Linked DNA regions of Homo sapiens: region 2 is linked to region 1. Evidence: fine-mapped expression QTL. Tissue or cell type: whole blood. Region 1 holds a variant in brackets; the other region holds the start of a gene. All regions are shown on one strand. Distances are between the middles of the regions.

Region 1 (8,108 bases):
GGTCTGAGAAGGACACCACAGTCATTTCTTCCCTTCTGTCAGACATAATTCCTCAGTTTAGCCTTCCCACCTCTATACAGTCTGATAACAGACTAGCCTTTATTAGTCAAATTAGCCAAGCAGTTTTTCAGGCTCTTAGTATTCAGTGAAATCTTTATATCCCTTATGGTCCTCTGTCTTCAAGAAAATTAGAATGGACAAAAGGTCTTTTAAAAACACACCTCACCAAGCTCAGCCACCAACTTAAAAAGGACTGGACAATACTTTTACCACTTTCGCTTCTCAGAAGTCAGACCTGTCCTCAAAATGCTACAGGGCACAGCCCATTTAAGCTCCTGTATAGACACTCCTTTTTATTAGGCCCCAGTCTCATTCGACACCAGACCAACTTAGACTGTGCCCCAAAAAAACTTGTCATCCGTACTATCTTTTGTCTAGTCATACTCCTATTCACCGTTCTCAACTACTCATACATGCCCTGCTCTTGTTTACACTGCCGGTTTACGCTGTTTCTCCAAGCCATCACAGCTGATATCTCCTGGTGCTATCCCCAAACTGCCACTCTAAACTCTTGAAGTAAATAAATAATCTTTGCTGGCAGGACTATGCTGAATCTCCTTAGGCACTCTCTAATCAGATGTCCTAGGCCCTCCCAATTCTTAGACCTTTTATACCTGTTTTTCTCCTTCTCTTATTCCATTTAGTTTCTCAATTCATACAAAACCGTATCCAGCCCATCACCAATCATTCTATATGACAAATGTTTCTTCTTACATCCCCACAATACCACCCCTTACCACAAGACCTCCCTTCAGCTTAATCTCTCCCACTCTAGGTTCCCACGCCACCCCTAATCCCACTTGAAGCAGCCCTGAGAAACATCGCCCATTCTCTCTCCATACCACCCCCCCAAAATTTTCGCTGCCCCAACACTTCAACACTATTTTGTTTTATTTTTCTTATTAATATAAGAAGGCAGGAATGTCAGGCCTCTGAGCCCAAGCCAAGCCATCGCATCCCCTGTGACTTGCACGTATACACCCAGATGGCCCGAAGTAACTGAAGATCCACAAAAGAAGTAAAAATAGCCTTAACTGATGACATTCCGCCATTGTGATTTGTTCCTGCCCCACCCTAACTGATCAATGTACTTTGTAATCTCCCCCACCCTTAAGAAGGTTCTTTGTAATTCTCCCCACCCTTGAGAATGTACTTTGTGAGATCCACCCCTGCCCGCAAAACATTGCTCTTAACTTCACCGCCTGACCCAAAACCTATAAGAACTAATGATAATCCATCTCCCTTTGCTGACTCTCTTTTCGGACTCAGCCCACCTGCATCCAGGTGAAATAAACAGCCGTGTTGCTCACACAAAGCCTGTTTGGTGGTCTCTTCACACGGACGCGCATGAAACTAGCCAAACATGATGGCACACGCCTATAATCTCAGCCTCCCAAGTAGCTGAGACTACAGGCGCCCGCCACCACGCCCGGCTAATTTCTTGTATTTTTACTGGAGACGGGGTTTCACCGCGTTAGCCAGGATGGTCTCGATCTCCTGACCTCGTGATCCGCCTGCCTCAGCCTCCCAAAGTGCTGGGATTACAGGCGTAAGCCACCGTACCTGGCCAAAAAAATATTTTTTTAAAGGGAGGAAAAAGTAAATATTATCATAAGGAAATACGAATGTGTAGAGGCAACGAATGCTCAGGAGTTGAGAAGAGTGACATCTCTGGACTGGCATGATCAAATACTTCACTTAGAAGGTGGAGCTGGTTAGGTGATGAAAGATGAGCTCATAGTTTGAAAAATAAATCTGAAGTTAGTAATAGAGAATAAATTTTTCCCAATATGCTTTGTCCATCTCTTGGCAGCATGGAAACACATTTTCATGAATACATGTTAATACCAACATTTTCTTGTTTACTAGTCCAATAAATGTTGTGTTTTACTTTAGTGATTTGTCCCATATCAAATGAAATAGTTCTGTGATTAACCCTAAGATACTGTTTAATTAAAAGAAATGTTGTTCCCTATTTCCTTTGAAACCATAAAGGGAGTGGATGTTGATCCCCAGTTAGCCAAGAGCTAGAACTAATTAGTCAACAGTGAACAATAGCTTTTGGATTGATGAGAAAACATTCTGACTCAGCTATCTGAACATTACTCAAAAGTGATGCTCCAAAGTATCAAAGAGCTATTTTTCTCCAGGTGTTTGACTACAGACACAAAGTTATGAGGAAACTATCTAGTTGATGCAGACTCTCTAAATTATGTACATGGCTAAGATAAAATTCATTTATTTTTCTTGACTCATATTTCCATTTACCTGTTATAATGTGTCCACATATGAGTGAAAATGATTGCTCTTAGAACCCAAATGTAGCACTGTCAAAATTTCCAGATGTTCTTAAATAAATTGCCACTGGTTTAGCTCCAATGGTATTACAATTTTATTTTAGTCAAATTTCTTACACAGGATGCTTTTTACTTTTAATTAAATATAAATTACTTGATATTACCCTATGCATTTTGAATATCCCTTTGGGAAAACAAGATGAAAATCACTTTTCTTGGTCAACTTATGTTTGCACACTCATGGTAACCTTGGCACTCAACGCTATCCATAAGAATGCTCCAAATAGATATGTCTGTGAGAAAACACTATATTTCTCTATAGTTTTGCCACTTCATAGGGACAGAGCAATTAGATTAGAAAGAAACTGTAGAGTGGAATAAATTGTTAATTGGTGCTTTGGTAGATTTTAAATAGTTAACTGTAAACATAAACACGTAACAGCAGAAAACTGTTTAAATACTTGTAAATTTAAACCGTTTAAATGTTTGTAACCAGATAAAATTATAAAGTAGCAATGTTTCTCTGCAGTGCCTACCACACATCTCTCCTTCCCATGTTTATCTGGGGACTTCAGGTTGCTCCACAGCCTTCCAGATCATCCTACAGGAGGAGAGACCATGTTCCACTCAGGTCGTGGCCCCATTCCCTTATCCCCGCCTTTTCCTTTAGTTCCTTTGGTACTGGGCCCAGACTTCTTTAAGAGAATCCGGCTCCAAGTTACTGTTTTGTAAACCCCTTCTCTTAATAATTCCTGACAGCAAGCTTAGCTCATTTCCCAGCAACTCTCATACCCATCAGCCAAATTCTAGCTTCCTACACTGCCACAAATCTAGAAAAACCACAGGCTTCTTGCCAGCCTCACCTGTTTTGATCAGTCCATCAATACCCAAAAGCTTCCAATTAAGAAGAGGTTCTTTCACTTTGTTATATCTCACATAACCTACTTCTACTAATTTGTCCGCGAAAATCTATTTATTTTGGACCTTTTATTTCCTACCAACTCCTGAAGGCCATAAGAAAATGAACATGTGTAAACATGCTTGCTCACTTGATATATTAAGAAAAGCTAGCCTATTGAATTAATTTTCAGCCCTTGATTCAAAATTAGAAAGAGAATATAGAAGAACTTTTAAAGAGAGCTTCATAGCACTTGAGCATTATATGCATATTAATCATTTAAG[G/A]TTTAAAAGGTTACTTTTCTGGTTTGACAATGTACATAAATTTTGCGCATATATATCAGAGTGGAAGTTTATATGACAAAAAATTTAAAAATAAGTTATTCAACATATAGGTCACCTGTCTTGGCCCATTTTGTGTTGCTATAACAGAATACCACAGACTGAGTAATTTATAAAGAAATTGATTTCTCACAGTTCTGGAGGTGAGGAAGTCCAAGATTATGGTGCTGACATCCGGTGAGAGCTTTCATGTTGTGTCATCTCAAGGCAGAAGGTGGAAGGGCAAGAGAGTGTGAGAGAGCAGGGAGAGAAGGAAAGTCAGACTGATCCATTTATCAGAAATCTGCTTCTGCCATAACTAACCCACTTCTGGGATAATGCTATTAATTCATTGATGAGGGCATTGTCCCCGTGATCCAAACACCTCTCAAAGGTCCCATCTCTCAAAACTGTTGCATTGGGGATGAAGTTTCCAACACATAAACTTTAGGGGACACGTTCAAACCATAGCACTACCTAAAAGTATAATCAGTCAGAAAATATAAGAACTGCAAAAGACACTGTTGAATAGAAAACCAAAAAATATCTGGTTGTTAAAGTATCATATTTAGCAAAGGCCAGAGGCATTATAAAGCAACAGTAAAATAATGAGAATGTATGTAAATGAAAGTTTATTGAGAAGATCTAAGGTAATTGCTGATATCATTTATAACTAGAAGAAAAAAAACAGCTGATGACACAAAAGTAAAAATAATTTAAAAATCTATATGGTGACCCAATAATTTAAGGAAAGGTTGCTTGCTTGCCAAAAAGGAAAGAGCAGCTTCTCTTCACTTTTTCTCCAGTAAGAAAAAAAAATCAAATTAACCAGACACAGTGGCATGTGCCTGTAGTCCAAATTACTTGGGAGGCTGAGGCAGGAGGATCACTTGAGCCCAGGAGTTCATTACAATGAGCTATGATGGCACCACTACACTTCAGCCTGGGTGACAAAGCAAGACCCTGTCTCTTAAAACACAAAAATCAAGAAACTGTTGAGGAGACAAAGACCACAATCTAGAATTTATTAATGAATATTTCATTCCAGTTCATTCAAGTTCGATAGAGATAAATCTTCAGTGAACAGCCATACCTTCCATTTTAATGATTAAGCCAGCGTCCTGATCAGGCAAAACCACCTTGAGAAGAAGCAGTAGTAGGCTCCAAGAGAAGGAACCAAGGTGACTGGCCACGGCTGCACCCTTACAAGGCACCTCAATAGCTGGGTAGGGAAAACTGCCAAGTGCATGCCTGCTTGTGTTCTGAGTAATCAAATGCTGGTGTCTTAAAAATAAATGGAAACAACCATTGGCAGTAGTTGTTTATCTGACATTATAATTTGTTTACCATCCCTCCTATTTTGCCTCTTGATGAAATCTGTATTTTATACTACAGTTATATAAATTAACTTCACTGGAAAGTAATACAAAATTAATAAAATAGACTATTGTCATTGGTGGACTTGAGTTTTCAGGGAGGCATTTGAGGCACTAATTTGAGAAGAAGAAAAAAATCAGTGGAAATGGGAAATCTTTCTCTGGCCCGTACAGGAAAGAAAAAAAAAAAAGATGAAGAAAAGAGAAAAAGCTGTGAACCTTCAAGAAAACAGGAATAAGTCCACTTCCCACTGAATTGGGGGAAAACCAGTGAGAAAAAAAGCAGAAAAAAGTTACAATGAGCACAGTGACTGTCAGTAGGTGACACCGTAATAGAGTAACAGGGCACATCTGGAGACTAGGTGGCATCAAAAGAGGCACCAACAGGTTTATAGAGAGAAATTGACATAGACAATTCAGAGGCATTTGCAGCTGAAAAGAAACAAGGAGACTTGAATTATATTTGGGTAGCGTTATGTTTTATTTTCTGGCATACTTATTAATATAAATTTCTTATAAGAGTACTTGTCCCAAATTTTCCTTAGTTTCAAGTGTTGGGGCAAGGGAACCATACTATCCAGCAATATTCCACAAAATCAGCCAGATGAGTCTGCCAAAATTTGCACTAAGGGTAGTATAAGAATGAGCATTAGGCCAGGCGCAGTAGCTCATGCCGGTAATCCAGCACTTTGGGAGACCGAGGCAGGCGGATTACTTGAGGCCTGGAGCTCGAGACCAGCCTGGTCAATCATGGCAAAACCGCATCTCTACTAAAAATACAAAAATTAGCGGGGCATAATGGCTCATGCTTGTAGTCCCAGCTACTCAGGAGGCTGAGGCACAAGAATCATTTGAACCCGGGAGGCAGAGGTTGCAGTGAGCAGAGATCACACCACTGCACTCCAGTCTGGGCAACAGCGAGACTGACCTCAAAAAAAAAAAAAAAAAAAAAAAAAAAAAAGGATGACTGTTAAACTGTCCTATTCCTTTGGAATTTTATTTTCTTAGGTCTTTGTTTTTCATTTGTATTCTTTCCTCTAAGTTTTTATATTCAAACATATTAAAATTTCCTGTCTTTAAAAAAGGAAAACTTCATTGTAAACAAGGTAGGGATGAAGTGGGACTAAAGGTGAGGATGTCTATTTTACATTAAACATTTTAATTTTTTTAAGCTGTAAGTTTAGTAGGATTTTTTCTTCTCTTTTTAAGTGTGATCAAAATGTCTTGACAGCAAAAGAGCTGCACCAATATTGCTCATCAAAATAGCTTAATCAAAATGTTATGTAGCTAAATAAAAATCCCACTTAAGTCAGATGGGTGTTGGTCTACAGAAACAAAACAAAGTAGCCTATTAAGATAATTGTTTACATAATTTAAGCAAACAGACATGTAATTGCTCAATTTTCTGCCTGATTTGACTAGGGCAGACATAAAAGTAAGCTAGTTGTTTCTAATCTGGTATTAAAGGGTTTAGCATAGGAGATTTGTTAATTCCTTGTTCTTATTGTTTAAAGAAAGAAATGTTAGTTTCATTCCATGTTGCAAAGACAGAGACAGTAACTTTGTAACTCCGGAGGATTGATTTGCTCTTTGGAAAACTGGATTAGTGCATACCCCGGATGTCTGTGAGTCTCACCAAACTGGGATTTGTGATGAACTGAATTACCACCAGTGCCTGAATTTCAGTATCTCATTCACCCCCAGCCATGGAAATGCAAGACTCCTGGTACCCCAAGTGCCTACATTGTGCTGTTGATGTACGCAGGTCTGTGGGTAAGTGAGCACGGGAGACAGCAAGCGCTCTCCAGACTGCATCTACCCAGATGGGCCAGCTAAACTCAGCCTCAGCCTTCTCCTTTTGTTATGAGCTAAACTGTGTCCCCTCAAAATCCATAGTTGAAGCTGTAAGCCCCAGCACCTCAGAGTATGACTGTATTTAGAGATAAAGTCTTCATAGATGTAATTGAGTTAAAATGAAGAATTTTTGGCTAGACACAGTGGCTCACACCTATAATCCCTATAATCCCTGCACTTTGGGAGGCCGAGGCGGGCGGATCACTCACTTGAGGTCAGGAGTTTGAGACCAGCCTGGCCAACATGATGAAATGCTGTCTCTACTAAAAATATTATATGTATATGTATATATATTAGCTGGGCATGGTGGCTTGAGCCTGTAATCCCAGCTACTCGCGAGGCTGAGGCAGGAGAATCACTTGAACCCAGGAGGTGGAAGTTGCAGTGAGCCAAGATCACACCATTGCCCTCCGGCATGGGCGACAGAGTGAGACTGTCTCAAATTAAAAATAAAAAGAAAAAAGAGAGAAAAGAAAATTTGTTAAGGGTGTGCCCTAATCCAGTCTGACTGGTATCTAGAGGAAATTTGGACACATAAGAAAACAGCATGGATGCACTCACACAGAGGAGAGACCACGCGAGGACACAGTGAGATGACGACCATGTGCGGGCCGAGGAGAGACGCCTCAGCAGAAACCAACCCAGCTGACACCTTCGTCTTAGACTTCTAGCCTCCGGAACTGTGAGGACATGAATTTATTTTGCTTCAGCTGTCCAGTCTGTGATATTTTGTGATGGGAGCTCTCACAGACTGATACACCATCCATAGTCATCCCAGTGGTTCCTGGGAGTCTCCACAGAGATGGGACAGATATGATTCTGTTCTTCCTTCTGGCTTCTTTGTCGTCTTGAATATTGCTCTCTCCTAGAAATAACAGCAACTGGCCGTTAACTGGGTGACTTACTAGTGAGAGCAGAACCAGAGCTTTCTGCCTACCCTATGACCCACCTACAGGTGAGAAAACTAGAAATTCTAAAGAAGAATTCGAGTCGTTGAGATGCAGAACTGTCAGCCAGATTAGGAGGGAGGGCCTGGGGTGCTTCCTACTCAAGCCAATTGTGAGGGCTTCCTGAGGAGCAGAGTGTGGGCCAATCTCGCAAGAAGGATCAATAAACAGTGTCTTTCTCCCCAGCTGGTTGGATACTTAGATGAAGGACCTGGACACTGCTGCCCCTGTGAGCCCAGAGTGGGACACCATGAGCGAGTTCCTGGGAGATCCTGATTGAAGTCCCCTGGAGTTTGGAGACACATGGGAAGTTAAAAACTGAGGCAAACTCTTGCCTAAAGAACTCTGAAGGCATG
Region 2 (8,108 bases), 250 kb before region 1:
AACATCCAGATGGTTGAGCCTCCAAACTAGGGTCTGTCTATATCACTGCAGTGCCAAGCCTAGATTAAGTGAGAACCCATATATAGGTGATCCCAGCTGAGGAGACCAGAGAGATGGCCTAAGAGGGTAAAACGGGCCAGACCTGCTACCCTGGTTTATTCGTACCACTTTCTAATATGTATGCAACGTTTTCATAACACAATGAGGTTTCTTCTCTTGTGCAACTCAATTCCAAGAGTATGTGAGTCAAACTCAAAGGCAACTTCTACATTCTTCTTTTCATTTCAGGAAGAGAAAATACAAAGTGCAACTCAATTCCAAGAGTATGTGAGCCAAACTCAAAGGCAACTTCTACATTTTTCTTTTCATTTCAGGAAGAGAAAATACAGAGTGTGACTATAGGTGGACTAGACACTGTATCGGAAAGGCGGGGTCTAATACTAACATTCTGTCTATTGCCCTCTCATTTCCACTTTCTGCTTAGGCCAACAAATGGGCACTTTGATTTTCGACATTTTCAACAATTTATTAATCCCCAGGATGGCCAATAGAGGGCAGACGATCTCTTCTTCTAGACCTCCATCAGAAATACTTCGTAATTCCTGGTTCGTTGCAGACCTGTTCCCCAACCCCTCCCCCACCCCCCCACCACCCCCACCCCAAACTTCGATGACTCCCTCCTGCCCATACCATCCCTTTCAAGTACTGATTTTGAGGTATTTACTAAAACCAAGAGAGAAGGGCTGCAGACAATAATATTCAAATATCATTTTGACTGTAATTCTTCACTCTCCCTTTTTCAACTCATTCATGCATGCATTTTTATAAATCCTGCCCTCTCCAATAAGCTGACAAGCTAATTGGGTTCAGAGTTATTTAAATAACTATAATGTAACATGATAAATGCTACAAGCAGAGGTACTTACAAATGCTGTAGAACAGATAAAGAAGCTCAAGAAGGCTTCTCAGAAAGGGAGGCCTTTCATGTGTGGCTCTAATTCTTAACATTCGTTCATGACTTTCAGGGTCCATTCAATTTCAGGGTAATTCTTCCTAGTCCACTTTCACCCGTGACACCTGATTGTCATCATGTTGGGCTCACCCAAACTCTTTCTGTAACCATAGTCTGGTCTTTGAAGATAAGAAAATACTTTTGTATTCGAGCCTCAGTATCATTGCCTCAGCTTCTCACTACCTCATTATCATCCCTCCTGGATCCCAGAGAAGAAAGAGCTGTTTCATAACTGAGCTCCTGATTCACACACTGGTTTCAGAAAAGCTGCCAGGACCTTGCAGGTTTCTCATTCGCCACTAGTCACTGGCTTCAAGGAATCCTATTTTCTCTATTGCTTCTATGACTATTAATTTTATGCCAAAGGGCATGTGTAATGTAACTTGATTTTTTTTTTCTTTTTGAGCTGATACAATCATCTTCATCTTAAAGAATCTCCCTAGTCCTTTCTAAACCTGACTTGAATTCCTGTGAGAAGTCAACCTTTCTCATGTTGTATCTGTCCATCTACCTTCCAGGTGGTTCTACTTCTGAAGTCCCAGGAACAATGAATAGTCATCTCCAAATTATCCTTTGCCTGTGCTCATCTGTAGCTTTCCTTAATCCTTAATATATCCCCTTAAAAATAAATAGAAGCTAAACTTTGACAATGCTTATTACCTCCTTCTTTCCTAACCACAGTAGCTTTCTCACTTCTGCCTTTTTCTCATCACCTGACCTTGGCTTTTCCTGCAGGTCCTACAATGTTATCTGCTACATTTTAATGTCTTTATACTTGCATTTGAACAGAAATACAGATAACCTCCTCTGCAAGAGTGGGAGGGACCTTTTAACACAGAGCAATGATGACAGTTTGTTGGCAAATCCCACACTGAAGTGCTGGTGCCTTGTTCGGTGACAAGAAAGAACAATGTTTAACAATGTGTGTTTTATTTTTCTTCAGTTTTTTTGTTTGTTTGTTTTTGAGACAGAGTCTTGCTCTGTCGCCCAGGCTGGAGTGCAATGACGCAATCTCGGCTCACTGCAACCTTCACCTCCTGGGTTCAAGTGATTCTCCTGCCTCAGCCTCCTGAGTAGCTGGGATTACAGGCATGCGCTACCACACCCGGCTAATTTTTGTATTTTTGATAGAGACAGGGTTTCACCATGTTTCACCATGTTGGCCAGGCTGGTCTCGAATTCCTTACCTCAAGTGATCTGCCCACCTTGGCCTCCCAAAGTGCTGGGATTATAGGCATGAGCCACCACGCCCAGTCTCTTCGGTTTTTCTAATAGAAAACCTAGCATATTTTAAACGATTTTGCCACTTAACACTTATTATGGACCCACAGGGTATGAGGGCCTTTGGAGATCATCTAATCGGACTTCCCACCCAACTACAGGAATCATTTCATTGCAACAACTCTTTAAACCCGTCTAGAAAATGCAATGCTCTCTCCCCTTTTCCACGGTTGAACATCTTCCTCATGGCCCTATAATAATCAATGATAATTAATGAGCCTCTTCCTCTCCTTGGACAAAGAAATATGATAGGAGAAATGTTTAGTTTGCTGATGCCCATCATGGGGGAATAGTCCACTGGTAACTCTGGCTTTTGGGTTCAGGATTAGACAGAGTGGTTAAACTAAAATATTTATCGTAAGTATGAATTTGTTCCACAAACATAACATTTCAAAGGTAGCTTTGTTTCCTCTTTCCTTGCACTGCCAGCTATTAACTTTCGGTTCATTAGTCACGATTTTCAGAATCCACTTGGCTGCCACCTTCCTGCAGCCAGACCATCTTGGATCAGAGGGTGGGCCAGCCATTCCCACGTCACACCTGCCACGGGATCGATTTTTTCCCCCATTGACCACAGTCACTTTTTGTCAATTAATTAATGTTATTCACCTGGTACCCATCTTGTGAATGGTAGGTCACTACGGAGCGGATTACTACTTCATATCCCATCAATGACAGAGCCATCATTACGAAAACCTTTTCTGACAACCACTGAAGAGAAACCATCTCCACACCGTGCATTTTGCATCACTTCCGTTGCTTCTTTACCTGATTTATCACAAAGACTATGTACCACACATCTTCTTTATTAATGCATTGACAATCAGTGAAGACAATGAAAACCCACCACTTTTGTCCGTGAACTGAGAAAGAAAATGGCAATGTCATATGGCATTAATGATGCATGAGATCTATGGGTGTAGTGTCACGTCTAGGCGTGTAGTAATCCAGTCTTCGGCCTTACTCCAGGGAGAAAGATTCAGCTTTGTTACTTTCCAGTCACTCTCTCCCGTAACACAGCACCTTGGCACAGAAAGCAGAGCGACAAAACCCAGAATGAGGACAGTTAAAATTCAACTCAAGCTACAGCCATCCCAACGGTCCTCCCCAGCTCCCGCGGAATATTTACCAAGACCGTTTAAAGCACTTAATTAATTCACTTCAGCTTCGCTGGAGAGGTCTCAGGGTTCCCGAGACTCCATTACATAATATCTTTCACAAAGTCTATTCCCAGCTCGAATGGAAGATGGATTCTCATCCAGTGTGCGGAGGTTCCATGCCTTTGCTTCCCTTTCCCGGAGTTCGATCCGGCGATACCCTCCCGAGGCTGCAGCCATCGCCCCGGCCCCGAGCTTCTGGGGTACCCGCCACTCTTCGAACTCCAATCTGGCCCCGAAGGTGCAGCCGCCTCGCCCTCCTGGCTCCCAGGCCGGCCGCTGCGGCCACGGTGCCAGCGAGCGCCCGGGACACCGCGACTCTCGCTGCTCGCTGGGTGCGCCCCAAGCCCATCCGCAGCGCACCCGCGGCGCCGGGGCCAGAGCCGCAGCTCGGTGGCACGGCCGGCTCGGTGCGCCGGGCTCGGGGAGGAGGAGATCGGGAAGAGGTGGAGGCGTGTGAGGGAGGGAGGAAGGGCCCGGCCGCCCGAGAGGGGGAGGGGGAGGCGGAGGGGGCCGGCCGGGCCGGGGAGGGGGGGCAGCCAATGAGCGGCGCGCGGCGCGTGGGGGTGGGGGGAAGGTCTGGGGGAGGAGGTAGGATGGGGGAGGGCGCAGCCCGAGCGGCTGAGGCTCCAGCCATAAACAAGCGCCCGGAGGAGCGGCGCAGGAGTGAGGCGAGCGGGGCGCGCGGAGCGGACGCCGCGGATCTTGTGCTGCGCCACCGCGCCCACTCGGCAGCTCGGGAGGCGGGGACCGGCCCGGAGGCTGCGCCGCTGCGGGGCCGGCCGACTCGGAGGAGGAGAGGGAGGAGGCGCCGCCGGCCCGGGCTGGAGCCGAGCGCAGCAGCCACCGCCGCCGCCGCGCCAGAAGTTTGGGTTGAACCGGAGCTGCCGGGAGGAAACTTTTTTCTTTTTTCCCCCTCCCTCCCGGGAGGAGGAGGAGGAGGAGGAGGGGAAGCTGCCGCCGGCGCCAAGGCTCGTGGGCTCGGGGTCGGCGCGGCCCGCAGAAGGGGCGGGGGCCTCGCCCCGCGAGGGGAGGCGCGCCCCGGGGGCCCCGAGAGGGGCGGTGAGGACCGCGGGCTGCTGGTGCGGCGGCGGCGGCGCGTGTGCCCCGCGCAGGGGAGGGCGCCCGCCCCGCTCCCGGCCCGGCTGCGAGGAGGAGGCGGCGGCGGCGCAGGAGGATGTACTTGGTGGCGGGGGACAGGGGGTTGGCCGGCTGCGGGCACCTCCTGGTCTCGCTGCTGGGGCTGCTGCTGCTGCTGGCGCGCTCCGGCACCCGGGCGCTGGTCTGCCTGCCCTGTGACGAGTCCAAGTGCGAGGAGCCCAGGAACTGCCCGGGGAGCATCGTGCAGGGCGTCTGCGGCTGCTGCTACACGTGCGCCAGCCAGAGGAACGAGAGCTGCGGCGGCACCTTCGGGATTTACGGAACCTGCGACCGGGGGCTGCGTTGTGTCATCCGCCCCCCGCTCAATGGCGACTCCCTCACCGAGTACGAAGCGGGCGTTTGCGAAGGTACGGCCGCCCGCTGCGGGCCCCCTCCCACCTGGCCTGCGCCGCCCCCTCGGCGCTGGTTGTGCCGAACAAAGTTTGGGCGAGACTTTCTGGAGGAAAGAGGGCTCTGCGGGAAGAGGGGCGGCCGCCGCCCCCAGGAGAGTGCCCCCGCGGCCCTGCGTTCCCTCTCCTTGTTCCCCCCGACGCTTAGGCAGTCGCGGGCGAGGTTGGGTATGGTGGGTGGGGGCGAGCGAGTGGAGGATCGCCCCTGTCCCCGCGCAGACGCGCACACGTGTGGCCGTTCCTGCTGGGACTGGGTGGCCCGGCCTTGCTCCCCGAGGTGGGGGCGCCGCGGGCGGGGGGCACTGCAGATTCTGCCGCGCGCGAGCCCCTCGGGGAGCCCGGCCCTACCGCCCTCCCCGCACTGGCGCAGTGTGGCACCGTGAGCCGCACGCCGGCCGCGAAAGTCCTTTTTCTGTTGGCGGAGGAGACGTGTCTCCAGCTCGCACTCCCCGAGTGACTCTTATTATTTTTTCCTTGAGCTCTTCCTTCACCCCTTCCTCCTCCTCCGCAGATAAATCAGTTTCAGCCGCGGAATATGTCAGCCCAGGGGAAGTTACACACGGTGGTTACTCATTTATTTGCCCATTGTAAACGGTCAAAGGCTTTCTCTCCTGAAAGGAAAGGGGGGTGGGGGTTGCACCTGGGAGTAAAAAGTTGTTGCTATTAGTGGCTGCTTTTTAATATCAGATACCCGCGTGTTTCCTGTCGTGTTGCCGGTTCCTCCTTTTTGTTTGTTTGACAGCGGGGATTGTTCTGCTGGCTTCTCCAGCACGCATTGTGCTCCGCGGTGTCGAGATTGACGGTGGGAGAAACAGATTAGATTAGTGGAGTCTTTCTCGTTGGGGAGCCAATGTTAGTGCGTGTTGGCTTTAATCCCTGCCCGCTTGCGTCGGCCTTCAGGGTGCCTGGTCTGGTTTGGGGTCTAGAGCGAGGCAGTGAGTTATTTTGATGTGGCTAACGGGGGCACGGTTCGGTAAGCATCAGTTAAAAGTGGGATCCCTGCTCTGGCTGACGTTGGGCTGATGATGCTGTTCCGGGGGCATCCTGGCGAGTGAGCAGAGCGCACGCAGCAGCCTCGTTTCTGGGGAGGCGGCGAGGAGGGACAGGCGCCCTCTGCCCGGCGTGCCTTCCTCACTACTCACAGCCAGCACCGTCCAGGGAACGGTTTATTCCGAAGCATCTTTGTGTGTGTTTGTTTAGTATGCTGGGATACTGAAAAAGGAGGTGACAGCCTTAAGGATAACAATGGACCTATTAAAAGGCTTCAGTGCTGTGATTCTCTCTAAATACGCACAGACACACACATAGGTACTTATTTATACCTGAATAGTTTGGGGTTTGGACAGTTCAGGAAAATAGGGGAGGGTTTTCTGGTTTGGAAGCTAGTGGGCAGTGATGAGTGAAGGGAACTCTTCTCAGAGGGGAGGGACTTGCTCTTGCTTTGCTGCACACGTAAGACATTGGGTTAGAAGAGATCATTTGCCTGAAGTACAAAAAAGCCTCTCACCTGGTATTGTCCCCTTTTATAACTTGTTTTTATGCCTTACCTCAAGAAAAATGGCCATGAGATTAACTTCTGATACCATTGTATGTGTTTTGACTTTGGGAATTCTGAATGACCTAGACTAAAAGATGCATCTTTGAACCCTGCCGCTTCAAGTGTATAACTTAATCCGGCCTCTCGTAAATCTGAAAAGAACAGGCGACATGAAACACAGTTAAATGCAGTGGAAACTGCTGTGTTCCAAGAAGGACTTTTGCAGGTTCTGAAGATTCTAACCCTTGTTTTGTTTCTTCTTAGTCTGTTTCTGGTGAAGGAAGTGCTCAGGGAACATTTACAGTAATCGAGTGTTGTGGCAGCAATATCCCATGTCACAGTATAGAGTTATTTTGGCAGTTTCGTGAGCCTTTCATTCCTCTGAAATGATGTGATCCCTCATAGCTTCCTTTTTTCTGGCAACACCCTGTGTGCTTGGTATTCGCTTTGAAATGCTTGGAAGGGTTTGTTGACATGATTATATCTCAATTAGTTTCTCTAGAAACACTTTTTATTTTACAGGCCTGTTTTCAACTATCAATATTGTGTGTCCAGGGCACTTCCTTTAAAAAAAAAAATACTGAAAACAGCAGTCAACTTGCATTCTAAATCTGTGAAACCAAAGTAAGGACAGTGTTACCTGGCATGATATAATGGTTGGATTTAGACAGATATTTTCAATCGTGTGTTTACAATTTCAGTGTTTTCACTTAACGACAAGATTTATGGAAAGCATGGGATAAGTGATACCCCAACCGCCCCCCGCCTGCCATTTTTAAAAAAAGAATTAGAGGAGCCTTCAGATGTCAGCAGTTACCTAGAAGGTATTGATTATCTCTTGTTTTTCTGTGAGTTTACAAGAAATTTCGGAATGGCCAGTGTTTCCCTCAGTTTCCATTTTTATTCAGAAATTCACGTGGTGAAGCATGGTTATCATAACTAACATGAATAGGAATCAATATATTTTATTCATGTTGAAGTCTCTTTTGCTGCAATTTTTGCACTAAAATGACCCCTACTGGTTGTATCTGTTAATGAAAACTCTTGAAAACTTATTTAATTGGCTACGTTGTAAAAACATATTGCATGTTATAGAAATATTATCATGACTAATCTCCCTGCTTTCGATGACATAATTTAAATACAAATTATATTCTCTGTTTGCCAACTTGCAGTAATTTTTAGCAGTGTTTACTCTCATACTGGCTTTGTAGGGGAAAAAAATTACGTTTTTAACTGCAGTTCACAAAATGAGTTAGATAAATCATGGGCAGAAATGGGCCCCTTTCAGCTTGTGGCTCACAGCCTTAGGTTTTTAAGGCATGCTGGTCTAGTTGGCTCTCAGTAAAAGTACATTGAACAAACGGAAGAACAATCCTATCCATAGAAAGAATGCTGAAGGAAAAAAAATATTTTCTGAATGATTAAATAATGTGATGAGTTGTGTCCTGTGCACCATGTGAGATGTGCACTTGGATTTCTTTTCCGCATTGTTTAGATTGTTATTAAATAAATTCTAATTGAATTATTCCTTTTGTGGTGGGGGCTGGGGGTGGTAAGTGCATTTGAAA

The links. PIP is the estimated chance that this variant, and not a neighbour inherited with it, causes the effect.
Region 2: it holds the start of CRIM1, and the variant in region 1 is fine-mapped to the expression of CRIM1 in whole blood (INTERVAL, PIP 0.90).

The regions. Positions count from the first base shown.
Region 1 is chr2:36,603,351-36,611,458 of GRCh38, forward strand. No RefSeq gene overlaps it. Among named protein-coding and RNA genes, the nearest start is that of FEZ2, 9.2 kb to the left of the region's middle. The variant G/A (reference allele first, on the strand shown) is at 3,540.
Region 2 is chr2:36,351,666-36,359,773 of GRCh38, forward strand. It overlaps CRIM1 (cysteine rich transmembrane BMP regulator 1), which reads left to right and starts at 4,113. Exons shown (of 17, transcript NM_016441.3): 1 at 4,113-4,958. The coding sequence starts at 4,628. CRIM1-DT (CRIM1 divergent transcript) reads right to left here and starts at 3,905. Exons shown (of 2, transcript NR_037631.1): 1 at 3,423-3,905; 2 at 3,084-3,316.